Regions from separate parts of the Homo sapiens genome. Here region 1 is linked to region 2. The links come from fine-mapping of genetic effects on gene expression. A gene starts in region 2. The other region holds a variant in brackets. All regions are shown on one strand. Distances are from middle to middle. Region 1 overlaps TRIM4 (tripartite motif containing 4). Region 2 holds the start of TRIM4 (tripartite motif containing 4).

Region 1 (13,639 bases), 20 kb after region 2:
TCCAAACCATTTTCAAACTGGTACAAAGTGATTGTTCCAGTTTACACTATTGTTACCAGTGTGTAAAATTAAGAGTTCCAGTTGCTGTGTATCCTCACCAATACTTAGATTTGTCAGTTCTTTAACTTTAGCCACCCTGAAAGGTGCAAAATGTCATCTCCTGCCCTCAGTCAGCACCCCTTCCCTCTTCCTAAAGGTATATGGATATATATATATATGTATGTACACCTTTCCTTGATAAAGCTATTTTTTTTTTTTAATTTTTATTTTTTATTTTTTAGACAGCGTCTCGCTTTGTAACCCAGGCTGGAGTGCAGTGGCACCATCTTGGCTTACTGCAACTTCGCCCCCCAGGTTCAAGCATTTCTCGTTCCTCAGCCTCCCGAGTAGCTGGGATTACAGACACCCGCCATCATGCCTGTCTAATTTTTGTAGTTTTAGTAGAGATGGGGTGTCATCATGTTGGCCAGGCTGGTCTTGAACTCCTGACCTCAAGTGATCCACCCACCTAAGCCTCCCAAAGTGCTGGGATTACAGGCATGAGCCACTGTACTCATCCAGATAAAGCATTTTCCTGATAACTAGTGAGATTGAGCACTTTTCATGTGGTAATTAACCAGTTTTTTTAAAAAAATGAACAATTTAGGTTTACCAAAAAGTTGAGAAGATGGGACAGAGTTCCCACATACCCCTTCACCCAGTTTCCCCTATTGTCAACATCTAGTGTTAATATAGTTCATTTGTTACAATTAATGAACCAGTGATACAGTTTACTAACTAGAGTTTGTAGTTTATTTCCATTTCCTCAGTTTTTACCTAGTATTCATTTTATTTTCTAGAACCACACCCAGGATACCAGATTTCATTTGGTTGTCATTGTCTCTCCTTAGGTGCCTCTTGGCTGTGACATTTTCTGAGACTTTTCTGGTTTTTGATGATCTTGAAAGTTTTGAGGAGTGTTGGTCAGGTATTTTGTAGGATGCTCCCCTATTGGAATTTGTCTGTTTTTTTCTTGATTAGGCTGAGTTACAGGTTTTTGGAGGAGCTGTATTTTTTAAATACACGTTGCCATTGGTTACCTGATATGTTACTTAGAATTTTCACATCTATGTCTTTAAGTAAAATGGGTCTGTAATTTTTTTCTACTGTTTCATTTCATGGCTTAAGGAACAAGGTTATAATAGTCTCTGAAAAATCAGTTGGGAAAATTTATATTTTTCTCTTTTGTGTTATAACTTAGGGTATTTTCAGTTCCATAAAGTTTAGTAAAATTCACCTGTAGAAAATCTCTTTGGACTTGGGCATGATAAAATATCCCTTGCGATTATAATTTAAAAGCAATCTTGTAAAACAACAGGAAGGAGAAGAGTGGAAGCTCAAAGCTGGAGCTGCTGAGGACCCACCAAAAGGCACGCAAAGGAGCAGGCTCTGTGATTGAGACTAGTTGGGGAGGCCGGCAGGAAGCCAGGAGCCAGTTTATGTCATAGTGCCAAAGGAGAAAGAGGAGGGGCGCAGGCAGCATTGTCGAATAAGTGCAGAGGGGCCACGTGAAAGAAAGGACCAGATTCTGTCAATCTGTTGGCTTTGGCAGCAGGAGATCATATGTGACATGAGCAAATGCAACCGTCAGAAAATACCTGCTCACACAGTTGTATTCCAGGTCTCCAGGAGAAGGTTCGTAATTTGCTTATGTCTTCCTTCTTTTCACAGAATCCAAAAGAAGTGTTGACCAGGTATGCACTCCTGTTCTCTTATGGGGACCTGGGTGGCATGGTAAAGATACAGGCTGAGCAGAGGGGAAACAAGGCCTAGGATCCATAGGTCAGTCTGGGCACACCCTAATGGGGGTCTGAGGAAAAATTCTCCTGATTGTTTCTGGGAGGAGGAATGGGAACAGAAGCCATCTGAACTTTGGGCTAAGAACCTTTGACCGGGAGTGGAGGTCTTGGCTACCCTAGTTGTCCCCTAAGAGCAGTCTTCTCTACCTTCTTAGGAGTGAGATCCAGGATGTGAACTATTCTCTTGAAGCTGTAAAGGTGAAGACAGTGTGCCAGATACCATTGATGAAGGAAATGCTAAAGCGATTCCAAGGTGAGCAGAATTTCTAGGACTTGGGGCTCCTTAGAAATCTTTCAAATAGGAGAATAAAGAGAGAAGTCTGGAGAGGAAAGAGGAAACAGCATGCAGCTAATAGAGTGTCAGGAAAGGTGGTTAATAAATGGGTATACACTTCATTCAAGAAACATTTATTTAACGCACTGTTACAAGGTGCTAGTGATACAAAAAGAAGAGACCTGTTCACTTCTTCATGAGTTCGTAAGCACATTGGAGAGACAGACACACAGCACTCACAGTGATATAGTAGGAGCCAGTGTTTGCTGGTGGTAGGAATAAAATGTTACAGAAATTCAGAGGAAGGGCTCTGTTGGGGGCGAGATGGGAAAGTTTTCACAGCAGAGGCGACAGTTTTGAGATTTGAGGGATTAGTAGGAGTTTGGCAGGTGGAAAACAGGGATGACTGTTTCAAGCAGAAGCAGCAGCATGAGCTAAGGTGTGGAGAACATGGAGGGGTGGGTATCCAAAGAGGCTAAAGAACAAGGTGTATTTTGAGGAAAGGTAGAGGTTGAGGTTGAGAAGAAGAGTGTAGGACAGACTGAAAATAAACTCATTGGATCTCCAGGGAGGCACCAAGGCAGGTACATGCTCTAGAAGCTGTGCTGGTGATTCTTATGTGCACATGTTTGATTAAGAACCATGTTGTAGGCCGGGCACGAAGGCTCATGTCTGTAATCCCAGCACTTTGGGAGGTCGAGGCAGGCGGATCATTTGAGGTCAGGAGTTCGAGACCAGCCTGGCCAACATGGTGAAACCCTGTCTCTACTAAAATACAAAAATTAGCTGAGCATAGTGGTGTGCACCTGTAATCCCAGCTACTCGGGAGGCTGAGGCAGGAGAATCGCTTGAACCTGGGAGGTGGAGGTTGCAGTGAGCTGAGATTGTATCCACTGCACTCCAGACTGGGCGATAGAGTGAGACTCTGTCTCAAAAAACAAACAAACTAAAAAGAACCATGTTGTGGGTGTTCACTTCTAGCCAAAATGGAGTAAATAAACGAGTTGTTTTCTTGTCTGCAGCAACTAAAATAAAAACACAAAAACAAAACAGGCACAATATGTGAAACAACCGTTTTCAAAGCACCAGACGTCAGGCAGTGAAGGACGGTGATTCCTGAGAAATGTGAAACAAATGAGGTCAGCCTATGATTGCCCTACCCTCTGCCTGAGGGAGTTTCCAGACCATGTAAGGCTGAGGTAACTGAGGTAGAGCCAGGGAGACTTGCTGAGTTGAGGAATAGACCTGGGAGTTCACGGAGAACAAAGTAGTGAGAGTTCGCAAAGTACTGGGCAGTATCCTGGAGCGGAGAGAGCCGGACACAGAGAGAACCCTCGCCATCTATGGAGGAGCTTCCTAGTTGTTTGGCAGAGTTCTGATCAGCACATGCCTGTGAAAATCTACTCAAGGCTGGAGATAGAAGCTTCTAAAACGATTAGAGGGAACGGTTCCTGGTGCTCACACAGGGCCAGGAACAGTGCCAGTTCCTATCAGCCACACCAGAAAACTCGTAGTTCACGGGCACTGAGTAGCGTACTCAGGAAAATCTTGCCTCATTAGCAGAAAATATTTAGCCCTTGACTGGGTGCTGCTCCACACCCACCTTACAAATCATGAAAGCAAGACCCAAAGGGGTCAAACTCTTTCCAACTAACTTAACTGCATCCCAGGATAAAGCCCTAGAAAATTGGTAGAAATAAACAAAAAAAGAGCACCTAACAATATAAATTCACAATGTCTGGCATCCAGTCAAATATGCATGCAAAAAGATAGGAAAGCAGTGACCCATAATGGAGGAAAATAATCAACTGAAACTGACCTAGAATTGACACAGATGTTAGAATAAGCATGGAAGGACTTTAAAACATTTATTATGAGTGTATTCTGTAAAGAGGTACATAGAGACCAGATCAAAGTTTTAAAGATGAAAAATGTGATTAAGGCGAAGAATGCACTGGATGGGATTAATAGTTGATTAAATATTACAAAAGAAAAAATTGGTGAACTTGAAGACAGAGCAATGGAAACTACAAAAAAATGAAACATACACAGAATAAAACAATTTACAAAAACACAAAGAGCATCAGTGACCTGTGGGACAACTTTATGCAGCCTTATTATCTATGGTGATTGGCGTCCCTGAAAGAGAGGAGTGGGGAGGGAGATGGAATAGGAAAAATACTTGAAGACATAATGGCCAAAGATTTTCTGAATATAATAAAAACTAAGTCCACAGATCCAAGATGCTCAACAAACCCTGAGTATGAGAAATATGAAGAAAAATATGCCAAGGCTCATCATAACTTGCTGGAAACCAGTGTTAAAAAGAAAATCTTAAATGCAACCAGGGGAGAGGATAGTTACTTGCAGTGGAACAAAGACGAAGTTGACATTACACTTCTCATTGGAAACAATGCCAGTAAGCAAACTCTTTAAAGTCCTGAAAGAAAAAAACTGTTAACCTAGAGTTCTAGAACTGGCAAAAAATATCCTTCAAAAACAAAGGTGAAATAAATAAGTTTGGAGGTAAACTAAAGCTTAAAAGAAAGAGTTTACAGCAGACTGACACTTCAAGAAAGGAAGTCTTAAAGGAAGTCCTTCAGACAGAAGGAAAATGCCAGATGGAAATCTCTCTACACAAAGGAATAAAAGAGCACCAGAAATGGTAATGACACGAATAAATATATATTATTGTCATTATTTATTCCTTTAAAAAGGAATTGCGATGGTAAGTTTATACATCAACTTGACTGGGCCACAGAGTGCCCAGATATTGGTCAAAAATTATTTTGGGTGTTTTTTTGAGGGTGATTTTGGATAAGATTAACATTTAAGTCAGTAAGCCTGTGTAGACTGCCCTTCATAATGTGGGTGGGCCTCATCTAATCAGTTGAAGGCTTGAATAGAAAAAAAAGGCTTGACCTTTCTGATGGATTTCTAAAGCATACTACCTTGGCCTTCACTGCAGCATTGGCTCTTCCTGCCTAATGGCCTTCCAACTAGAACGCTGGCTCTATCTGGGTCTTGAGCCTGCCAACTCACACAGCAGATTCGGACTTGTCAGTAGCAATAATCACACAAGCCAGTTCCTTATATTAAATCTTATACACTGGCTGGGTGTGGTGGCTCACATCTGTAATCCCAATTCTTTGGGAGGCTGAGTTAGGAGGATTGCTTGAGGCCAGGAGTTTGAGGCCAGCCTGGGCAACATAGTGAGACCCTGTCTCTACAAAAAATAAAATAATTAGTGTGCTGGTGTGTGCCTGTAGTCCCAGTTACTTGGGAGGCCACGGCGGGAGGATGGCTTAAGCCCAGGAGGTTGAGGCCGCAGTGAGCTGTGATTGCACCACTGCACTCCAGCATGGGCAACAGCGAGACCCCATCTCAAAAGAAAACCCAGAAAACTCACAGGTGCATGCATGCACGTGTGCGCACACACACCCACCCACCATACACAGACACAGACATATATATCCTTTTGGTTCTGTTCCTTTGGAGAACCCTAATAATTGACTATTTCAACAGACAAAATATGGTGTATTTTGGAACTTATATTTAAAAGTAAAATCCATGACAGTAGTGTGAAGATTGGGAGAGGAGAGATGAAAGTATACTATGATACAGTTCTCATGTGTGAAGTGGTATAATATCACTTGAAGGGAGACTGATAAAAAGGTGTATACTTGTGCCAGTCCCCTACTGACTTCATTAAGGATGGCACCGTGTCTGAAAGGCCGAAGAGGAGATCTGGAGTAGTGAATGAGACATGGGGTTTATTGAAGACCTACATGCAGGGCAGTCCAGGAATGGCCAGCTGGACAGGAAAACAAACCACTGCTATTTGTAAAAAGCATGCAGGTTATATATAGCATTTTCATTTAGCAATCTCCACCTGGGACCTTCCATTTAACCCAAAAGAAAGGGCCTCGATTCCCTGTATTGCCTGCATTCCAAGGAATGGACCAGGAGTTCACATGGCCTTTATAGATGAGGAGTGCATTTCTGGGTTGGCCACTCCTGGATTCTTTAGCTCAGAACTCTGAATACACAGTCTTCTTAGACCATAGGGTTATTCTCAGGGTGTGCTGGAGTTACTGCTGTCAGGTGTGTCTGCCGTACACTGCAGTCCAGCATACCCTTGAATGGCCCCCACATTCTTATCACGTCATTCTCTGCAACTTCCCTGAGGCAAGGTATGTGCAGTAGCATTGCTGCCAGATGCTGCAGCAGCGTTAGAAACTACAGCAACAAAAGACAATGACAAGCATAGTAGCAATCATACTCTACAGAAAGCTTTTCCAAGCACTTGATAAGATAGAGAATTTTTACTGAAATATGGGTTTCTAGGGTTCACATAACCCCGGTTATAATGTGAGAGTAATAGGGATATATACACAACATTTGGTTTTAATTAATGTGCAGCTTCCACCCAGGGCAGCAGTTAAGATATCCAGGGCCATGCGATTTTACACAGTTGCCCAGTGAGAAGAGTAATGGCATGGCACAGGTATCCTTGAAGGCTGCAGCCATATGTTTAGCGAGGTCTCCAAATTGCAACTCCAGAATGCACACTTCTGGAAGTGCCTGGCTTTTATACTCTCCCAGTTAGTAAGAATGGTGTCTCAATGGGACAGAATGTGTCCGGCAGGTGAAGACGACCCCAGGTGCATCTACCAGCCCAATTTTAGGGTAAGTAAGGCCAGCTGTGGTTGCCGTCTACCTGTAGCCATCCCCAAGGGGAGGGCATGGGCCCCTACGTGGAGACAGTTACTGTGCCACCCTAGCCACATATTATTGGCTATTTGAAGGGATTGGTTGCATTGCTGTGGGGGTAGCCACCCCACATTAAGAGTTTAGCTTGTGACATGCTATTATCATGCCTTTCAGTACATAAGGGTGCATGACTTACTACCTGTATCTGCACTCTTGTTACTCACCCTTGTCCATCGTGTATGGAATACCCCACAGCTGGGGTAGCACTAACCTGCTCCCATACTAGGTGGAAAATATGTCATCTTGTCTCACTGATGGTGGGAAACGCACTGCATAATGTGGTGGTGGTGCTGAAGGGAAGTGGGTGAGACTTATCATGCCAAATATAGACATGGCTCCAGGTACTCAAGTTAGCAGCATGGATGCCCCATGGCAGGCCCATTGTGGAGGAGAGGGGCAACTCTCTGCAGACCCAATAGTCTGTTGTGTTCTGGAAAGAGGTCACCATGTGCACCCAGTTGGTGAAGCGGTTTGCTGCACCCCATCTGTGGGCAACAGGTGAGATGTTTAGTGGGTACAAGAAAGGGGAAGCCATTTAGTAAGACACAGGAAGTTGTGTCATTCTGAGAGCACCACCCCTGGCAGTGGCCTGGCGCCTGGTTTATAATACAAAGTGGATTGGGCCCTTTGCAATGCTTTGCAAGTGGCCAGAGTAAGACAGTGGGGGGTATTATAATGTTCTATAAGAGGATGATTGTCCCCTTGCACAAGGAAGACTGGGATTCATTATTTTGGAAATACAGGGGGTTGGGGAGTAGGATGTAAAATAGGTGTGACCTGTATATTCTTTTCTAGGCCTTTCCCCCATGGAGTGCAAGAACCGACTTGAGAAATCTTTTGTTCTTTTTTTTAGTTGCTACATAATAATTTTACATATTTATGAGGTACAGTGTGATGTTTCAATACATGTATACAGTGCATAATGATAAAATCAGGGTAATTAGCATATTCATCACCTCAAACATTTATCATTATCTGCATCGGGAACATTCAAAATCCATTTCTACTAAGTGGGAGAGTGTAAAATCCCAGGGAGGGTGGGATCGACTGTCTCCCACTCTGTTTGAACTTACTTCCCAGCTTCACCATTTCCACAGCGGTATAATCCTGCATTGTGGTGGTCTGCCTTCTTTCAGGTGGAGGCAAGTCTTGTAGGGCTACCCTCTGTGGGTGTGGTTGGTCTTCTTTTATCTTGGTAGTGACCATCAGACATGCTGAGAGGATGGGAACCTCTATGGACTCATCCCAGTCCTCATCCTCCCTGCCACTAGATCTCTTCACGGGGTCCCAGGACTTAGGGTTCCAGGACAATTTAGTCATGATAGTCCTAACTCCATGTGGCAGTCAGTGACCCTTCAAACAGGCTATGCAACAAACCAGTGTCTCCATTTTGTCATCCTGTTCCCACAGGTGGGACAGAAATTAGCCTGAGCTAATATCTCCCTAGTTGCAGCTCATCTTGTAAGTGGTACACCCTTGCCTGTGCCACAAGCTCAACCTTGGGGGCTGCTCTAAGCACAGTCAGGACTGGCCGGCCAACTGCAGCTGCCACAGCTTGGGCATTTGACTTTCCCTTAGTTGGATCCACCCCCTGCAGCAGTTCTTCCAGAACTTTTGGCATTTTGGGGGTATCCCCATACTCACCTGGTGGGCCCCACCCATCAAGGATAGTGGCTATTGGGCCCCACATACATGTGGACAACCAGCCCAGGATTTCCACCGTGGATTCTCCCCTGATCCCATTGTCTTGGCACTCGTGGAATTTTCTCCAACCTCCTGCTGGGCTAATTGTTGTGCTAGACCCCTATTGATTTCAGTACGGATGGCACTGTGTCTGAGAGGTGGAAGAAACCTGGAGCCGGTGAATGAGACATAGGATTTATTGAGGACTTATATGCTGGGTGGTCCAGGAGCAGTGGGCTGGACACGAAAACCAGTTGCTACTGTTTGTAAAAAGCATGCAGATTATATAGCATTTTCACTTAGCAACCTGCTCCTAACAACCTCCATTTAACC[C/T]GAATCAAAGGGCCTTGATCCTCTGTACAGCCTGCATTCCAAGAATGGGCCAGAGGTTCAGATGTTCAGATGTCCTTCCTAGAAAAGGAGCAGATCTCTGAGTTGGCCACTCCCACATTTCTTAGCTTGGAAGTGTGAACCCACATTCTACTTGGACCATAGGGTCATTGTTAGGGTATGCTTGAGTTATTGCTGTCAGGTGCATCTGCCATACGATACCATAAACCTTAAACCACTAAAATAAAAGAGATGTAGCTAGTCAATAAAAGGAAATAAAGTGGAATTATAAAAAAAGATTAATAAAAAATAAGGCAGAAAAAGAAGAAAACATATAGGACAAATAGAAAACAGCAAAATAATAGACACAAATCTAATCATACTAATAATCACATTAACTATAAATGGTCTGCATGCGCTAATCAAAAGGCAGAAGTTGGTTGGATTGGCTAAAAAAAAAAAATAAGACCCAATTTTTTACTGGAAAAGAAACACATTAAATATGAAGAACCATATACGTTTAAAGCAAAAGAATGGAAAAAGATATGTTAATAGATCTGGAGTGGGTATATTAGTATCAAAGTAGATTTCTGAGCAAAGGATATTACCAGAGATAAAGAATGTTATATCCTAATGATAAAGTGGTCAGTTCGTCAAGAGAATGTAAGTTCTAAACATTTCTGCACTTAACAGTGCTTCAAACATATTAAGCAAAAACTAATAGAGCTGCAAGAAGAAATACACAAATTCACAATTACGTTTGCAGTTTTCAGTACCTTTTAATAATTTTTAGAATAATTAGGCAATAAATCAGCAGGGATATAGTAGACTTGAATAATATTATCAATCAACTTGATCCCATTATTTATAGAACACTCTACCCAACAGCTATATACTACATATTTTTTTCAGTGTACGTGAAACATTTTCCAAGATAGACTAAGCTGGCTGTAAAGCAAGTGTCAAATTCAAAGGATTCCGATCATTCAGAGTATGTTCTCTGATCACAATGGAATTGATAGAAATCAGTATCAAAATATCCTTAGAAACCCCCCTAAATATCAAGAATCTAAATAATAGACTTTTTAGTAACCCTTGAATTAAAGAAGAAATCAAAAGGCAAATTAGGAAGTAGTTTGAATGGAATGAAAAGGAAAAGACAATATACCAGAATTTGTGGGATGCACCTAAAGCAAAACTTAAAGAAAAGTGTATAGTGCTATATTGGAAAGAAGAAACTTCTCAAATCACTGACCTCAGCTTCCACCTTAAGACACTAGAGAAAGAGGAGCAAGTAAAGCCCAAAGTAAACAGAAGAATGGAAATAATAAAAATCAGAGCAGAAATCATTGCAGTGAAATACAGAAAGCCAACAGAAACCAATGAAACCAAAAGCTGGTCCTTTGAGAATTTCAGTAAAATTGACACACCTTTAATCAAAATGATCAGAAAAAAAGAAAACACACATTACTAATGTCAGAAATGAGAAAGGTGACATCATTACAGATTCTGCAGATATTAAAAGGATAATAGAATATTAAGAGCAACTTTTTGCCAATAAACTTGACAATATAGATGAAATGGATGAAGTCCTTAAAAGACACAAATTACAAAAGCTGACTCATGAAGATAGAGATAACTGGAATAATCTTATTTCTATGAAAGAAATTGCTATTAGAAACCTTCCAAATGGCTTTCGTTTTGTTTCTTTTCTTTCTTTTCTTTTCTTTTTTTTTTTGGGGGGGGGATGGAGTCTTGGTCTGTTGCCTAGGCTGGGGCGCAGTGGTGCAATCTCAGCTTACTGCAACCTCCACCTCCCAGGTTCAAGTGATTCTCCTGCCTCAGCCTCCCAAGTAGCTGGGACTGCAGGTGCGCGCCACCATGCCTGGCTAATTTTTGTATTTTTTTTTAGTAGAGATGGGGTTTCACCATGTTGGTCAGGCTGGTCTTGAACTCCTGACCTCGTAATCCACTGCCTTGGCCTCCCAAAGCATTGGGATTACAGGCATGAGCCACCGCGCCTGGTCCCCAGATGATTTTCTTGGTGAAACATTTCACCAAACATTTAAGAAATAAATGCCAATTCTTCAAGAACTCCTATTGAAAATTGATGAAGAGGGAATATTTCCCAATTCTTTCTGTGAGGCCTGTATTACCATGATGCCAAAATCAGACAAAGACGTCACAAGAGAAAAGAATTATACATCAATGTCTCTCATGAACATAGATACCTAAATTCTCAGAAAACTTTAGCAAATTGAATCCAACAATATATTAAAAGGATAATATGTAATAATCACAACCAATTTATATATCCTTTGGTATACAAAAAGGATAATGTATAATAATCACAATATGTGAGATTTATCCCAGAAGAGCATAGTTGGTTTAATATTTGAAAATCGATGTAGTTTATATCACTAAAGTAAAAAAAAAAAAAAAAGGAAAACCATGTGATTGTCTCAGTGGAAGCAGGAAAAGCATTTGTCAAACTCTAGCATACATTCCTGATTTTTTTTAAAAAAAGTCCTCAAACTCAAGAGACATGGAGAGTTAGAGGGAAGGGAATTTGGAGTCAGGGAGGCCAGGGAGGACATTATTAACACATTGAGTGACACTGGAGATTGGAGTAAAGGCAGTGGCAATGGGAGTGGAGGGGAGGAAAAGAACCTGAGTGACAAATTTCAGAGGTAGAATTGGTAGGACTTGGTGACTAACTAGCTATTGAAGGTTAGAGGAAAGAGTCGAAAATAAAGATTTAAAAGCATGAGTGTTCAGGTGGAGGGGACTCTGACACCTTAGAGAACATAGAAGGCAAGATGTCTGCATATGAAGTGGATTAGTCCCGAGAGTATAGAAGGGGGTGTAAGTAAGATAATTAGTTCAGTTTTGAATGATCTGTGGGGAGATTTGTGGAGATGCCCCATAAACAACTGGAACCCGTGAAAAGAGACCTCATTATTCTGTCCTATGTGACACCTGTGTGTATCTAGCCAAAGAACCAGCTAGTCGGCAGCCTTGGTTCTAGTTTTGATTCAACGTGAGAATTTGTTAATATCTCTCCAAATTTTAGGCTGTTTGTGAAAACTTGGGGCATGAAATAATTAGATCCCCAGTTTCTAGAGGTTAGTCTTTTTTTTTTTAAAGATAGAATCTTGCTCTGTCACCCAGGCTGGAGTGCAGTGGCACGATCTCGGGTCACTACAACCTCCGCCTTCTGGGTTTAAGTGATTCTTCTGCCTCAGCCTCCCCAGTAACTGGGATTACAGGTGCCCACCATCATGCCGGGCCAGTTTTTTTGTTTGTTTGTTTTTTGGTATTTTCAGTAGAGACGGGGTTTCGCCATGTTGGCCAGGCTGGTCTCACTCTCGTGACCTCCAGTGATCTCCCTGCCTCAGCCTCCCAAAGTGCTGGGATTACAGGCATGAGTCACTGCGCCTGGTCTAGGGCTTAGTCTTTTAGAGCAGAAGGGAAATGAGGACTTCAGGTTGCTAAAGGCCATGCTGTGGCCTGCTAGGCCTGGCTGAGGATCAGTTGGGCAGCAGTGGAGTCATGAGTGTTTGTTAGGAGGAGAAAGATGAAACTGATGCTGGAAAAGATGGGCATTTCTGGGGAAGGGTTGATGATAAGCTGCTGCACTACTTAGCTCTCATTTTCTCCACAGTGGCTGTAAACCTAGCTGAAGACACAGCTCATCCCAAACTCGTCTTCTCCCAGGAAGGGAGATACGTGAAAAATACAGCATCAGCCAGTTCTTGGCCAGTGTTTTCTTCAGCATGGAACTACTTTGCTGGATGGAGGAATCCTCAGAAGACTGCTTTTGTAGAGAGATTTCAGCACTTACCCTGTGTTCTGGGAAAAAACGTTTTCACCTCAGGGAAACATTACTGGGAAGTTGAGAGTAGAGATAGTCTGGAGGTTGCTGTTGGGGTGTGTCGGGAGGACGTCATGGGAATTACTGATCGTTCAAAAATGTCCCCAGATGTGGGCATCTGGGCGATTTATTGGAGTGCTGCTGGCTATTGGCCCTTGATAGGCTTCCCTGGAACTCCCACCCAGCAAGAGCCAGCTCTCCACCGAGTGGGGGTTTACCTGGATCGTGGGACTGGGAATGTCTCCTTCTACAGCGCTGTGGACGGAGTGCACCTGCACACCTTTTCTTGTTCTTCTGTCTCACGCCTCCGGCCATTTTTTTGGTTGAGTCCATTAGCATCTTTAGTCATTCCACCAGTGACTGATAGGAAATGAGGCTTTTCTTCCCCTGACCAAAACTCCTTCCCTGTAGTCCAGCTGAGGGACACACATCCCTGGGCCCTCTTCTGCCCTTCATGTCTCTATCCTGGATGGTCCATCTTCTGGGTCTCCCTAACGGTACCGTTTGGTATCTGCCCTTTGTGTGCTTCACAAGAGGCAGTCCCATGGGAGGTGGGTCTGGCCAATGGAGATGGGACAGGAAATTTTCCAAGACGCTTTTGGGAAATCTTTTTGTAGCTTTTAAAGAGATGTGCGGGGAAGACATATGGATGTTAGCAGCCATATTGGAACTGAGAACACAGGAATGGTGGAAAGGTAGAAGAAACAGAGTTTTTGTTGCCGTTGTGAAATTGTTGAAATTTCCTTCATGCCAAGCTTCTTGTTATATGAGATAATTACGCCCTTATTGTATAAGACAATTTTAGTTGTATTTGGTTACTTGCAGCCTGAAGTACCGTAACTGCACTAAAGGGACGTAGTGTGAACA
Region 2 (16,284 bases):
CCACACTGTGGCGTGTACTTTGGTTTTCAATAAATCCCTGCTTTCGTTCTTTTGTTGCTTCATCCTTTCTTTGCTTTGCTAGGAGTTTTGTCCAATTCCTTGTTCAAAACGCCAAGAACCTGGACAACTTGCAGTCACTATCCTCTACCAGTGACAAAAGTATACAATTAAATAGCCTTTAGTATATTCAGAGTTGTATATCCATCAACACTACCAATTTAATAACATTTTCATCAACTTAAAAAAACCCTACCCCCTCATGTTACTCTCAAACTCTTATTAGCACCCAAAACATGCAACCATCATATGGTTTTGTCTCTATTGGTTTTCCTACTCTTTCATACAAATGGAATCATGCAATATGTGGTCTTTCATGTCTGGCTTCTTTCACTGAGCATAACTTGAGGTTCATTCATGTTGTGGCATGTTTCAGTATTACATTCCTTTATATGGTTGAGTGTTATTCCACTGTTAGGATATACCACATTTTGTTTAAGGAGATACCACATTTTGTTTATACATTCTTCAGTTTCAGGACATTTGGGTTGTTTCCATTTTTTGGCTCTTATGACCACTGTTGCTATGAACATATGTGTACCACTTTTTTTTTTTTTTTTGGGATGGAGTCTCACTCTGTCACCCAGACTGGAGTGCAGTGGTGTGATCTTGGCTTATTGCAACCTCCACTTCCTGGGTTCAAGCGATTCTCCTGCTTCAGCGTCCTGAGTACCTGGGACTACAGGTGCGCACCACCACACCCAGCTAATTTTTGTATTTTTTGTAGAGACAGGGTTTTGCCATGTTGGCCAGGCTGGTCTCAAACTCCTGACCTCAGGTTATCTGCCTGCCTCAGCTTCCCAAAGTGCTGGAACAACAGTCCTGAGCCACCACACCTGGCCCCAGTTTTAGTGTTGTGTAAACACATGTTGTCAGTTCTCTTGCATAAATAACCAGGAATAGAATGTCTGGGTCATAAGGAAACTCCACGTTTCAACTTTTGAGGAACTGCCAAACTCTTTTCCACAGCAGCTGCACTATTTTTACATTCCTACCAGCAATGTGGGAATACTTTTTATTTATCTATTAAATTCTAGCCATCCTAGTGGGTGTGAAGTGGTATCTCATTGTAGTTTTGATTTGCACTTGCCTAATGGCTAATTACATTGAACATTTTCCATGTGCTTAGTGGTTATTTGTATATCTTCTTTGGAGAAATGTCTATTCAAATCCTTTTCCCATTTATAAATAGAGTTTTTTGTATTTTTGTTGTTGCATTGTAAGAGCTCTTTATATATTGTGGGTATTAGATACTTATTGTATGTATGATTTCCAAATATCTTCTCCCATTCTATGATTGTCTTTCACTTTCTTGATAGTGATGCACAAAAGTTTTAAATTTTAATGAAGTCTAACATCCAATTTTTTCTTTTGTTGCTTATGATTTTTGTGTATTACCTAAGAAACTATTGCCTAATTCACAGCCATAAAGATTAATGCCTATGTTTCCATAAGAGTTGTATAGTTTCAGCTCTTACATTTAGGTCTCTGGTTGGTTTTGAGTTAATTTTTGTGTATGGTGTAAGATAAATGTCAAACTTTATCTTTTGCATGTGGATATTCAATTGTCTCAGCACTATTTCTTTTTTAAAAACTTTTTTTATTTAAATGGGTACATAGTAGGTTATATATTTATGGGGTATACAAGGTATTTTGATACAGGTATGCAATGTGTAATAGTCACATCAGGGTAAATGGGGTATTTATCACCTCAAGCCTTCAGCCTTTGTTATAAATAATCCAATTATACTAGTTATTTTATAATGTACAATTATTTTTGACTGTAATCACCCTGTTGTGCTATCAACTACTAATTCTTATTCATTCTATTTTTTGTACCCATTAACCATCTCCACTTTCCCCCTACTACCCTTCCCATCCTTGGTAATCATCAGAGAAGATATACAGATAATAAGAAAGCATATGAAAAGATGTTTAACATCATTTATCATTAGAGAAATGAGAATGATTGACTTTAGGGTTAGGGAAGAGAAATACAAGATAAGACTGGAGGATTTTGTAGCGGTAGAAAGTAAGAAAGTGCTACTCCCTCTTCCCCACAAAATGACAGGAGTTTGTCAAAGGGACACAGATGTCAACTGAAAAAGTTCCCAATGGCCAACACAGGAATAATCTGAGCAGTAAAATAAACAACATAGTATTGGATTATACCCAAAGTATAAAATAGGAATCCATGAATTCATAATATAAATAATTGAATAAATAGGAGATAACTGACAAATTTCTCATGCAGAAGAATGTAGATACTCCACCGCAAGGAGGGGAAATATAACTACTCACTTTTTTTTCTTTTGAGATGGAATTTTGCTCATCGCCCAGGCTGGAGTGCAATGGCAGGATCACTGCAATCTCTGCCTCCCAGGTTCAAGCAGTTCTCCTGCCTCAGCCTCCTGAATAGCTGGGATTACAGGCGTGCACCACCATGCCTGGCTAATTTTTGTATTTTTAGCAGAGACGGGGTTTCACCATGTCGGCCAAGCTGGTCTCGAACTCCTGACCTCAGGTGATCCACCCACTCAGCCTCCCAAAGTGCTGGGATTACAGGCGTGAGCCACCGTGCCCACCAACTACTCCCTTTTTAGGCATGGGCTGCACATAGTGACTTCCCACTAAACAGTAAAATAGGGGGAGGGGAAAGAATAACTTTACAGGGAGAAACCCATCAAATACTACCTCAGCCGGGTGATCAAGGTTAACATCAACAGTGATGAGCAATGTTGACAGCATGTGCCCCGGATATGATGTGATGACGGTTTTTGTATTTTCCCGTTCTAAAATTTCCATGGGGCTATTCTTTGTATTTTCTATTACTTCTCTGAGACTTTTAAACTTTCCATTTGAATAGCAGCTTTATAGTCTTGATAATTCCAACATGTGTGGCAACTTACATTCTGCATCTGTTACATTTTTTCCCAACGTGAGTTGAGATTTTCCTGGTTCTTCACCTGCCAATTAATATCGATTGTATCCTGGACATTTTGAATGTCATTAGGATGCTCTGGGTCTTGGTTAAATTTGGTGGAGGATGTTGATATTTATGTTTTAAAGGGTAATTAACCCATTTGGGTTCAAGTCATAAGTTTTGACCAGCCTTCTGAGGGTTGTGGTTCCAATGTCAGTTCAGTTTTCAAAGCCTTTGTAGTACTCTTCTGATAGGTCCCACATGGGTGGCACCTAAAGTGTAACCCAGGGTCCTTGGGTTTTGGGTACGCACTGTGAAAAAGTTACACACTTGTAACTGTTACATCTTGAATTTTTGTTTTAAAAAGTTCCAGGAAGAAGCTTAGCCCAGGAAAAACAAAGACCAGTTGGACCCAGAGATGCCTGAGTTGGAGATGAACTTTGGCCAACTTTCCTCATCACCATACTTAAAATCCTGTCCAAGGAGGAGCTTATTCACCATTTTCTATACATGTGACATATGTAGCAGCATAACCGACAACTGGGACTGCGCTGCCTTGACTCCACCTCTACATACAATGACTCAGCTAACCAGACTAATAAAAGCCATGTTTGCACCATTGCTCAGGGAGGCATTGCTTTGGGGAATTATTCCCAGTGTCCTCCTTACTTATCGCAAGTAATAAAATCCCCCTGGGAAATCCTCCTTGGTTGTGGTCATTGGACTGTCCCCTGCCAAGCAATTTAACCCATTCATTGTGTGGGTAACAAAAGGCCAGTCTGGGACATGAGATCTGGGTCTACAGTTTAGTTCTCAAAGTCTTTGGCATGCAATTTAGGACCAGATTCATCATACCAAAAAAGGGAGATAGTCTCAACAGAATTCTCAAATTACTTAAATATCAGAGGCAGTGTAGAGAAGGAGTACTTGGTGGTATGGTAGGTTTTCTGACAGGAAACAAAAGATGGAGGTAAAATGGAACCAGTACTTTCTTTCTGAGAATACTGACTGCACCAACCATAACATGAAGCGAAGGCTATATCTCCCTGAAGTAAGAAATGTAATAAAGGAAACTTTCAGAAATAATAGATCATCTGGAGATGTTGGGCAGTGTATTTGGTAAGTTATAACTACCAGGTATCAATACAATAAGCTTAGTTTGAATACAATAAGCTTAGTTTCTTTTTAAAGAATTTATCCTGCTCTGTGTTCTCTGAGCTCCTTGGATTGGTTTGGTGTCTTACAAATTTTGGAAATTCTCAGCCATTATTTCTTGATTTTTTTTTTTTTTTTGAGATAGAGTCTTGCTCTGTCGCCCAGGCTGGAGTGCAGTGGTGTGATCTCAGCTCACTGCAAGCTCCGCCTCCCGGGTTCACGCAATTCTCTTACCTCAGCCTCCCGAGTAGCTGGGACGACAGGTGCCTGCTACCATGCCCGGCTAATTTTTTTGAATTTTTAGTAGAGACGGGGTTTCACTGCGTTAGCTAGGATGGTCTCGATCTCCTGACCTCGTGATCTGCCTGCCTCGGCCTCCCCAAGTGCTGGGATTACAGGGGTGAGCCACTGCGCCTATTTCTTGATTTGATGTTGATATTTTCCCACCAGTCTTGGATGCTGTGTTCTGTTTCTGTCACTCTTTTTGTGTGTGTGTGTGTGTGTGTTTCAGCAATTTCTATTTACCTACCTTCAAGTCTGATTTTTTCCTCAACTGTGTTCAGTCTCCTAATGGGCCCATGGAGGGCATTCTTCATCTCTATTATTATATTTTTTATTTTTATAGTTTCCATTTTATTTTTCCTGATAGTTTCCATCTATTTGCTAAAATCACCCATCTGAGCTTGCATTTTGTTCACCTTTCCCCTTAGGGCCTTCATCACATTAATCACAGTTATTTAAAATTCTCTCATATTTCTAATGTCTATGTCTTATGAATCTGGTTCTAATGATTGTTTTATCTCTTTGGACTGTGTTTTTTCTTGCCTTTCTGTATGCGTCTTTTTTTCTTTCTGTTAAAAGTTAGTCATGTTGTATTTTTTTTGCTTAAATTATTTTTTCAATTCTCTCTTCACAGTATGAAGTAAAGATTGTTTTTATGCTTGGAGATGAGTGTGTCTTTCCTTCTGCTAGGCCTTTAGTGCTCTTGAGTGCATAGCAGTGGTTCGGTGGTATCAGTCTAGTCAGAAATTGGGCTAGGTTTACAGTTTGTTGTTGTGGTTATCCTCAGTGCACAACAGACTTCAAATTTCTCTAGAGATAGCTTATGTGTAGGGTGTGGACTTTATTTTGAAAGTGTGTTTTAAAGAGGTCTGTATGGATGTCAACTCGATGCAGAGTGGACAGTGGTAATTTTGTAATATATCAACTTTGCTAAGCTAAACTATGTTTCCCAGAATTTCCTTTCCTTTTGTTTCTGGTTAGAATAGCCCAACAGAGACATGGTTGTGTAAGTCTTGAAGGGGAGAACTGAAGCATCCCTCCAGTTTTATACTTGAAACGGTGGTGCAGGGACACTAGGTGCTACTGCGGCTCATCTACTTTGTCACCAATCAGCTGGTTCACCTTGTTGGGATGGGGCAGAAGCTTTTCCCTGAGTCTTCCTTCACCTTTTTTGATTCCTGAGCTGTGTGTGTGTCTAGTCCTGTGGCAAAAAGTGTCAGCTCCTCTAGCAAGGATACTCATATCTTTAAAGTTGGAGACAGTGAAAGAATGACCAGCTCGTGTCTTAGGTTCCAACTCATTTTTGCTCTTCCCTACTTTATGTTCATCTTCCCTTCTTAACTGCTTGCCCTGCGAACATAAAGAAACATAGTGATTCCACTTCTCTGAATGAACCTTGGCTGGTATACAGACTTATAGACATTTTGTGATGGAGAAAAATTGTTAATTAGGGAGCCTCACTTAGTAAAGAAGGAAGGTCATCTCTGGTATGGCAGGAATAAAGACATAAGGATTTTAAGGGATTTACCTGAAAAGATTTAAATGACTACTGTAAGGGGAATAAATACTTTGCAGGAATGCTGAAACTTCTCATTCAATACTTAGGTAAACATATAGACACACAGATGCCATAAACACTCATGGTAAACATCAGTAACTGTTAAGAGCATTCCTTCCTGCTTGGTCCCTATTAAAGAACCAGATCCCTTCTCCATAGAGTATTCCAATTTGCAAAGAAAATCCATTCATTAGTTGTCCAATTTAAATGTTTTAGAAATATTCAGTGGAACTTTCATCAATAACCCCCAAACAGATACCTCAAGAACCCCTTTTTCTAATCATTTAATCATACTACTTACTGAGAAAAATTATTATAGGAAAGGCAGTATTTGATATTGGGACATAAAAAGAATGAAAAATCTGTTAAATAAGCAAAAGCCCATTAGCCTGAGGCTGTCTTGGTACTTGAGTTCCCATATAACAAAATACAACCTGACTTAGTATGTAAACGAACTGAAGCCTAACTTACTTTATTTTTTATAACAGCTGGGTTTCAGCCAATCACGGCCGAGCTTCAGCAAATAACAGACAGCCAACTGATCAGACCATGCCCCAATAAGGCAAATGCCTCATCATATCATTGTCAAATAAGGCAGACACCTAGATGTTAGCTAATGAGGTGATTTCTCTACTTTGCTTCCTATAAAAGCTAGCAGGTCATACTGCTGGACAGAGCTCTCTGAACCTCTTTTGGTTCTGAGTGCTGCCCAATTCATGAACTGTTCTTTGTGCAAATAGCTTCTATTAAATTTGTCAGTCCAGAGTTTTTTTTGTTTTAAACAAATATTCACAAGAAAAGGAAGAAAGTGGGAAGAATAAAAAGCAAAGCACCTCAGAAACACAAGATCGAAAATCCACTTAAGGGATATAGATAATTCCCTGAAACAGGTGAGCATATTATTTGTTGAAAGCCTCCATGGATGTTCTTTGGGATAGCAAAATGGTTGCTACTTTTCAAATTGGATACCAAAAAGGCAATGTATCTGCATCTCAGAATCCAAATCATCCCCACGTTAGCCAAACTCCAGGCCTACCAACACAGATCCTTCAAGTCTTCCTGGCCTTCCAGGCCCCTAGGCTGCAGCTCGCCCAGAACTCCTGGGACTCTAAAACTTAAATCGGTCTAACCAGCAGGCGAACACAGACCTGAACCCTCAAACTTGGAAAGAAAGATCATAGGCACCTCCCCGGTTGGCTCCCCCAGGGACCACAACGTCCGGCTCTAACGCCTTGCCCAAGTCCTCTGTAGCTTTCCACAGGCATTTCTGGGTCTCTATAGCTGTTTGGAGGAGCCACTCACCGGTCCCGTCCTGCCCCGCGCCTAGGCCTGAACCAACCCCCTCGCGGTTCCGGCGCGGATACCCAGCAGCTTCCGGTCTTGCGCGCTCAGGCCGGGCAACGTCCGTGCGTTCTTTTTGGGTCCTGAACCCCGGAAGAGAAACTGCGTTGTACCCTTTTACGTGAGGCGGTGACGGCGGTTCGGAAGTCGTCTGGCCTCCCCGCGGCCGCTCGCAGCTTGCTGGCCTCTCCCGCGCCTCACGTCGGACTCCGTCTCCGCGGCAGGGAAGCAGCATGGAAGCTGAGGACATCCAGGAGGAGTTGACCTGCCCCATCTGCCTGGACTATTTCCAGGACCCGGTGTCCATCGAGTGCGGCCACAACTTCTGCCGCGGCTGCCTGCACCGCAACTGGGCGCCGGGCGGCGGCCCGTTCCCCTGCCCCGAATGTCGGCACCCATCGGCGCCCGCCGCGCTGCGACCCAACTGGGCCCTGGCCAGGCTGACTGAGAAGACGCAGCGCCGGCGCCTGGGCCCCGTGCCCCCGGGCCTGTGCGGCCGCCACTGGGAGCCGCTGCGGCTCTTCTGCGAGGACGACCAGCGGCCAGTGTGCCTGGTGTGCAGGGAGTCCCAGGAGCACCAGACTCACGCCATGGCACCCATCGACGAGGCCTTCGAGAGCTACCGGGTGAGCTGGCCGTCGCGGTGACTATGACGGGGCTGTCAGTGTTGCCCGATAAAGTTTACTTAATGCTCCTAAAAGAGCCACGAAGTGGCTGTCATTCCTACTGGAAGCATGAAAAGCCCCTGAAACTCAAAGAAGTTAAGCAAAACACGAATTTCAGAGCTAGGGTTAAAACTGGAATGAGAGGAGGGGAGGTGCAAACCTCAGCAATCATTGTGCAGAATTTTCAATAAACTGGCCCTTGGGGAGCTCATAATAAAGAAAAACATACTGAGAGGGTGTGTGCCGCTGCTGTCCAATAGAAACCACATATGTAATTTAAAATCTTTCTGGTAAGATAAGGAAACGAGGTGACGTTAATTGTAATAATATATTTTATTTAATCTGATTACCCCAAATATTCAAAGCTGAGATGAAAATTATCAATGAGATTTTTTTTTTTTTTCTGAGATGGAGTCTCACTTTATTGCCCAGGCTGGAGCACAGTGGCGTGATCTTGGCTCACTGCAACCTCCTCCTCCGGGGTTCAAGCAGTTCTCCTGCCTCAGCCTCCCGAGTAGCTGGGATTACAGGCACACGCCACCACACCCGGTTAATTTTTGTTTTTTAGTATAGAGGGGTTTCACCATCTTGGCCAGGCTGGTCTCGAACTGCTGACCTCAAGTGATCTGCCCCGCTTGGCCTCCCATAGTGCTGGGATTAAGGTGTGAGTCACCACGCCCGGCCTCAATGAGATATTTTATACTCCTTTTTCATAATAGGTCTGAAATTGGTGTGTATTTTACATTTACAACACATAGCAGTTTGGAATATCCACGTTTCAGGTGCTTGTATGGCTAAATGGATACTGTATTGGACAGTGCCTGTCTGTATCTGTAAATGTCATAGACAGCTGATGATTTGGGAAAAGCCTAGCTTGTAATGATGAGGCTGGGTTTTGTTACTAGCTTCCTTCATCAGTTGGGAAAATCCTGTAACATTTGAATTTGGGGATTATCTGTCCTATCTCATGGGTTAAGAAGCTCCGGTTGAATAAATCACTTTACCTTACTCTGCTTCAGCCATACTGGCTTTCTTGCTTTTGTTTCAAGTCTGTTCTCTTTCTCTACCCACATCTATCCTTTAGATCCTTTTAGCTTTTAGCTTGAAGACCTTCCCTGATCATCCTTTCCAGAGTAGCCCCACCCCCTCCCATTACTGATGGTGTAACTCCAGTGGTCTCCAGCAGAATTGATATGCAGTAAGTACATGAACACATGAATTTATTTATTTATTTTATTATTATTGTTTTTGAGATGGAGTTTCGCTCTTGTTGCCCAGGCTGGAATGCAGTGGTGAGATCTCAACTCACTGCAACCTCCACCTCCCGGGTTCAAGTGATTCTCCTGCCTCAGCTTACCGAGTAGCTGGGATTACAGGCACCTGCCAGCATGCCCAGCTAATTTTGTATTTTTAGTGAAGACAGGGTTTCACTATGTTGGTCAGGCTGGTCTCGAACTCCTGACCTCAGGTGATCCACCCACCTTGGCCTCCCAAAGTGCTGGGATTACAGGCGTGAGCAAGCTTTCCTGGCCAAACACATGAATTTAATGACACAGTGAAAATGTTTGGAAACTGTAAAATACTGTACAGTTGTACCAGCTGACTATGAACAGGAAACAGACACAAAGCTGGACTAGAAAGTGTATGTTCATTCCTTCACTCAGTAACGTTTATTGATGCTTACTATTTGCCAAACATTGTTTTAGAATCTGGACATAAGTGGATGAGAAAGACATGGGCTTTGTCTTGTAAGGAACTTAAGCGTGTACAACATTAATTTCAGTGTGTGTGAGAGTAGCTGAAGTATTTACCAAGTGTACAGAAGGTCTGAGGTCGGAGTGATCACTGAGGAGTGAGGAAAGGCTCCGTTGAGGAGTTAAATGTGTTAGCTCTTCAAGGGTGAGTAGAGGTAGGAAAGAAGGTATTTCAGGCCAAAGGAACAGCATATTCCAAATGTGGTGGAGTGGGATAGCATGTGGTGTGTGAGAGGACTGGAGGTTGCTCAGTACTTCTGGAGCATGGAGCATGGGAAGGAGGATGGTGGGCCATGAGCTTGAAGAAAAAGGCAGGGCCTTATCATGAAGGATCTTGTTTGCCATAGTAAAAAGATTGAACTTTCTCTTTCAGGCAGTGGGGAGTTATAAAAGGGTTTTAAGGCAGGGAATGATATGATCGTTTTTTTTGTTTTAGACAGGTAACTTTGACATCCACGTGGATGAATGGAAGAGAAGACTAATTAGGCTGCTCTTGTACCATTTTAAGCAGGAGGTAATAAAGACCTGAATTAGTTCAGGGCAGGGATGATGGAGAGGGAGGGATGGAGTGATAATGAGCTGGAGTTGAATGACTTGGTGATCAATTAGACTTGGTGGGTGAGAGAGAGAGGAGTCTTGGATGGTAGTTCAGATTTCTGCTTCAGATGGCAGGTAGATGACTGTCAGGTTAACTGAGGTAAGGTACACAGGAGGAAGCGTAGTCTTAGGACAGAAGATCCCATGCTTGTGGAATGTACTGAGTGTGAAGTAATTGTGACAGGAAGTCCAAGGAAGAGGGACAGGAGGTGGGGTGCCTTGGAGGCTAGAGATAATATTTTAGAATCCTCAGCCTGTTCTTGAAGTCATGGAAGAAGTAAGAAGATGAGATTCTCCTAGGAGGACCACATAGAGAGTAAAAAAAGGCACAAAGAGAAGCTTGGGAAACACCAATGGTTGGTAGCCAGCAAAAGACATGGAGAGGACCCATCAGATAAATGGAAGGGAAAATACACTTGTGGGTGGGGGCCGAGGGAAATATAAGTGGATGGGTATGAAAGGGGAACATAGCCCTTAAATCTTCCATCTTCAGCAGTAATAGCTATCAGTTGTTCATTACTTCTTACGTACCACCCACAGTTCTAAGCATTTTTCATACTGTAATTCTTTAATCTTCATAGACATCCTATTAGGTGGATTCTGTTATTCCCTTTTTGAAGATGAGGCAACTGTGCCACAGAGATGTGAGGTTACATGCCCCCGAGGTCACAGAACTAGGAAGTGGCTATGCTTGAACTGAGGTCTTCTAACCCCTAATCCTTTACACTTTTCACTCTGCCACAACTAATCTGAGAAGACTTCTTAGAAGAGGTGGGATTTCAGGATTAAACACAATGGCCCAACAGGACAGGAGTGGATGGGTAAGGGTTACACTGGGATGGGCTGAATGTCACAAGGTTGACTTCGTAGGTGTTCAGGAGCCAGGTCACTGGGCGGAATTCCCTGATATCCGCCCATCTCTCCATCCTCCTCTGCTTAGTCACTGCCCTATTCAACCACCTTTCATTCCATCCCCACCCCAAGTTAGTTAGAAAAACATAAACTGCCCCTGGGTGAAGCTGCTTTATTTCCAAGCATCCCATTCTCAGCATATACTCAGATGGATGGACTGTGTTTTAAAAGTTGGATAGCTGGAAGTTCCCTAAATCCATGGAAAATATCCCCATCCTATACCCGTTATGGTGAGGGGAGAAAAAGAGAAAAGAGAAAGAGAAATAGCTTCATAAATCTCCGGATGCAAATTGTTTGCATGGAAAAGGCCTCCAAGTGCAGCTCTTTTTTCCTTCATGCCTGACTCTAGGAGCTAATCCCTCCATTCTGTTAATTAATTTAAGATGTTTATTGAGCACTGGCTTTGTGTCAGATGCTGTGGCACGGCACCAGATGCAGCACTGGGAATCCAGTGGTGAACAAGACAGGTAAAGGCTTTCCATGGAGCTCACAGTCCAGTTGGGCTGAGGGTGGGAGGTAGATAGCAGACAGACAAATAAATGAAATAATCACAGATGGTGATGGCATGCTGGGAAAGAAAAAGAAAGTGCTATCCTAGGCCAGGCGCAGTGGCTCACGCCTGTAATCCCAGCACTTTGGGAGGCTGAGACGCGAGGATCCCTTGAGGTCAGGAGTTTGAGACCAGCCTGGCCAACATGGTGAAACCCTGTCTTTACTAAAAATACAAAAATCAGCTAGGTGCGGCGGTGGGCACCTGTAATCCCAGCTAGTTGGGAGGCTGAGGCAGGAGAATTGCTTGAATCCGGGAGGCGGAGGTTGCAGTGAGCCGAGATCATGTCACTGCACTTCAGCCTGGGTGACAGAGCAAGACTCCGTCTCAAGAAAAAAAAAAGAAAAAAAGAAAAAAAGAAAAAGTGCTATGCCAGAGAAGGGAGCAGTCTTCTCTTAGGAGGTGACATTGCAGCTGAAACTTGCTGGATGCAGAGTCTGCCATCTGAGGAACTGTGGGAAGAGGCCCTGAGGCGGGGGAGAGCTGGATATGTTTATGGGGTAGGAAGAAGGTCTCTGCACCTGGAGGACCAAGAGCAAGGGGAAAGGTGGCATGCGATGTGAAACGAGATGTAGGCAGCGGTCAGCTTATGTTGGGCCACAATGAAGTGTTCAGATTTTCTTGGTGAAGAGGAAAGCCAGTGAAGAATCTTGAGCAGGAGAGTGACAATATCTGATTAGTTTTTAGAAAAGTTATTCCAAGGCCAGGTGTGGTGGCTTATGCCTATAATCCTGGCACTTTGGGAGGCTGAGGCAGGAGGATTGCTTGAGTCCGGGAGTTCAAGACCAGCCTAGGCAACTGTGAGATCCCATCTCTACAAAAAATACAAAAATTAGCTGGATGTAGTGATGCACATCTGTAGTCCCAGCTATTCGGGAGGCCGAGACTAGAGGATCACTTGCACTCAGGAGTTCGAGGCTGCAGTGAGCTATGATCGTGCCACTGTGGCTGCGTTGTGGATATTGTATGAGAGAAGGACATGACTGTAAGTAGGGAGGGCAGTCGGGAGGTTATTGTAGTTGTCAGACAAAAGATGATGGTGGCTTCAACTAGCGGTGGCAGTGGGGTTTGGCATGTAGGTAGATTTGAGGTATATTTCCAAAGTACACCTACCAGCTTGGATCAATTGCAGAAGTTACAGTGACTGAAATTCATAGAACTCAAGAGCTGGGATGGTATTTAAGAGACATTTGGTCCAGTTGTCTTCATTTTATAGTTAAGGAAGCCTTGATCCAGGAAATAAGCAAGGCTGACTTGCTCACAGATGCACAGCTGGTTTGAAGGTCTAGAGTGAAACTAAGATCTTTGGAAGTTTAATGTTGTTTGAGCTACATGATCACAAGTCAGTAAATGTCTTCATTCTATAAAAGTATGCTCTTTTATTACACTTGTGTTTTCATATACGTATAATTTTCTGGTGCTAAATTAAGAGAAAGTGATTTTTAAAAAAATTATTATTTTTATTTATTTATTTATTTATTTATTTGAGATGGAGTCTCACTGTGTTGCCCAGGCTGGAGTGCAGTGGCGCGATCCCAGCTCACTGCAACCTCCACCTCCCGGGTTCAAGCGATTTTCCTGCCTCAGCTTCCTGAGTAGCTGGGATTACAGGCGTGTGCCACCATGCCCGGCTAATTTTTTTTTGTATTTTTAGTAAAGACGGGGTTTCACCATGTTGGTCAGGCTGCTCTGGAACTCCTGACCTCGTAATCTGCCCGCCTTGGCCTCCCAAAGTGCTGGGATTACAGGCGTGAGCCACCGCACCTAGCTGAGAGAGTGATTTTTAAAATTTCTGGTATTTCTAACCCAGATTGAAATGCTTGGTGTTGCGCTCCTGCCACCTCCTGGCAGTTTCTGTTGTTGCAGGGAAAGTGTTTTCTAACTTCCACCAAGGCTGTCAAGTTAACTCACCTCCCAGTTTAGATTCCAACTGTGGCCAGATTGAAAAAAACTTGGGTAGAGTCTTGAGTAGTAGAACCATATGAGAGAATTCATGCATACTGACTTGTTAAGGCTTTTTAAGACATAGAAAATCTCTATTTAGTAGATTATTATATTTTTCATTATCAAGCAAAGTGAAAACTTTCAAAAACTTGGTCCTATTTGAAGGAACTAATATATATCTCATTACAAACCTCATATACATCAAATTTGACAGTGACCACAAAGCGGCAGTTATAATTGAATAAAGTGAAATTACATGAGAGAGTAGCAGGGTTACATGCCTATTAAAGTTAACTACTAGAGATAGTAAATAGATGATATAATGTTAGGAAACATCATGGTAGAAACAGAATAGCACAGATGGTATTGTGCCATTTAACAGAACTGTATGAATCCCTTTTATAATTTAATTTTGTTTTCCTATTTCATTTTACCATGAAAATTTCAAGCATACATCAAAGTTGGAAGAATTTTGTAGTAACACCAGTGTACCCACATGTAGATTCTACCATTAACATTTGACTCTTTTATCACATAGCTGTCCATTTGTCTGTATCTCTCTGAATACATCAATTCTTATTTCCTTTTGATGCTTTTAAAATTCAATTGCAAACAAAATACTTCAGCATGTATATCATTAACCAGATTTAACATTTGTTTATGGTATTATTTTTTTTTTTTAATATGTAGAGTCTCATTCTGTTACCCAGGCTGGAGTGCAGTGGTGTGATCTCGGCTCACTGAAACCTTTGCCTCTGGGTTCAAGCGATTCTCATGCCTCAGCCTCCCAAGTAGCTGGATTACAGGCTTGTGCCACCACACCTGGCTATTTCTTTTGTATTTTAGTAGAGACAGGGTTTCACCATGTTGCCCAGGCTGGTCTCGAACTCTTGGCCTCAAGCTGTCCACCTGCCTTGGCCTCCCAAAATGCTGGGGTTACAGGCGTGAGCCACCGTGCCTGGCCTATGGTATTTTTTGAGGTAAAATTTAATACCATGAAAAACACAAATCTTAGTTGTACATTTGCTGAGCTTTGACAAATGCCCTTCTCAAGATAAAGGATATTACCATCCAGAGAATTCTTTCATGCCCTTTCCCAGTTATTCTCTGCACCCTTCCCCTACCAGGGCAACCACCGTTCTGATTTTTTTTCAAACACAAATTAGGTTTTGCCTGTTCCAGAACTTCATATAAATGGAATTCCATTGTCTGTATGGATCCTTTTGCTCAGCATATTGATTTTGAGATTTATCCATTTTTGTATAGGTTGGTGCAAATGTAATTGCGGTTTTTGCCATTATTTATCCACCTTCCTATCAATGAATACCTGGACTGTTTCCAGCTTCTAGCTATTGTGAATAAAGCTGCGATGAATATTCTTGTACAGGTCTATTTATGGGTACATGTTTTCATTTTTCCAGGGTCTAGGAGTAGAATTGCTGTACCCTAGGATTAATGTATGTTTAGTTTTACACTGAACCTTCTTCCAAAATGGTGGTAGCATTTCATTCGCCTGCTAATGTTGTGTAAGAGTTCCAGTTGCTCCATACCCTTGCCAACTTTGATGTTATCAACCTTGTCAGTTATTTAACTTGATTTTAACCATTGTCACTTGTAAATGATTGGATGAAAAGTTATACCTATTAGTAATTGTTAGTTTTCTGGGGAAGAATTTAAAAAGTTGTACAGATTATTTTTTAGTTCTAATCATTTCTTTTCTTTTAGTTTTTTAAATTTATTTTTAATTTTTTTAATTTTTTGTTTATTTTGACATATAGTGAGACTTACAGAAAGTTGCCCAGGCCACCCTCCAGCATTTGACACTATTCACTAGTTTTGTAATTTAAATGGTCTCTTCCTTTGGCATAGGAGAAACCATTCTCTCTTGGTTTTTCACCAACTGCTCACCTTAGCTTCTTTGCAGGATTTTTATTTTCTACATACTGCTTAAATGTAGTTGTTGCCAGTTCTAGCCTTGATCCTCTTACTCTATAGAATCTTACTGGGTGATTTTACGCTCACCCAAGGCTCCAACTGCCACCTGTGCTTTAATCCCGAAATCTGCTTCTGCAGCATAGATCTCCTTCCCAACTCTAATTGCTAACATATCCACTTGGATGTCCCACAGGCATCTCAGACTCAATTTATTTAGGTGAAATTTATTTTCCTTCCTCCCATTTACACACTGCTCTTCTTCCTATATTTTCTAATTTGATAAATAACCTGCAGTCCATCCAGTTACTTAAACCACAACTGAGGGGCTAAATCTGGACCCTTTCCTCCTGCAGCCATTTGATCATCAGTTCCTGTGGGTTTTTCTCTTGTGTGTTTCTCTAACATTTCTGCTTCCATCTCTGCACTCGCAGCTGACATCCTACTATCGGGTGCTGCCCCTCAGCCCAATTTGTCAATGTTGATTGACTTGCTTTATTTTTTAATAACTTACTCGGGTTTTTAAATTACAAAAATGGCATATGCCACTTGTAGAAATTAAAGCAAAAATGCATAAAATTTCTAGTACCCCACCTCCAAATTCGTAAGCCATT

The links.
Region 1: its variant is fine-mapped to the expression of TRIM4 in whole blood (INTERVAL, PIP above 0.99).

The regions. Positions count from the first base shown.
Region 1 is chr7:99,891,670-99,905,308 of GRCh38, reverse strand. TRIM4 (tripartite motif containing 4) reads left to right here. Exons shown (of 6, transcript NM_033091.3): 4 at 1,711-1,733; 5 at 1,994-2,091; 6 at 12,563-13,639. The coding sequence ends at 13,146. Among named protein-coding and RNA genes, the nearest start is that of TRIM4, 21 kb to the left of the region's middle. The variant C/T (reference allele first, on the strand shown) is at 8,902.
Region 2 is chr7:99,910,667-99,926,950 of GRCh38, reverse strand. TRIM4 (tripartite motif containing 4) reads left to right here and starts at 7,421. Exons shown (of 6, transcript NM_033091.3): 1 at 7,421-7,942. The coding sequence starts at 7,550. It overlaps LOC101927610 (a long non-coding RNA gene), which reads right to left and starts at 7,348. Exons shown (of 2, transcript XR_001745296.3): 1 at 7,124-7,348; 2 at 1,637-5,767. It overlaps GJC3 (gap junction protein gamma 3), which reads left to right. Exons shown (of 2, transcript NM_181538.3): 2 at 3,348-3,685. The coding sequence ends at 3,406. RefSeq lists enhancers at 7,050-7,159, 7,400-7,479, 7,510-7,559 and a silencer at 7,690-7,849.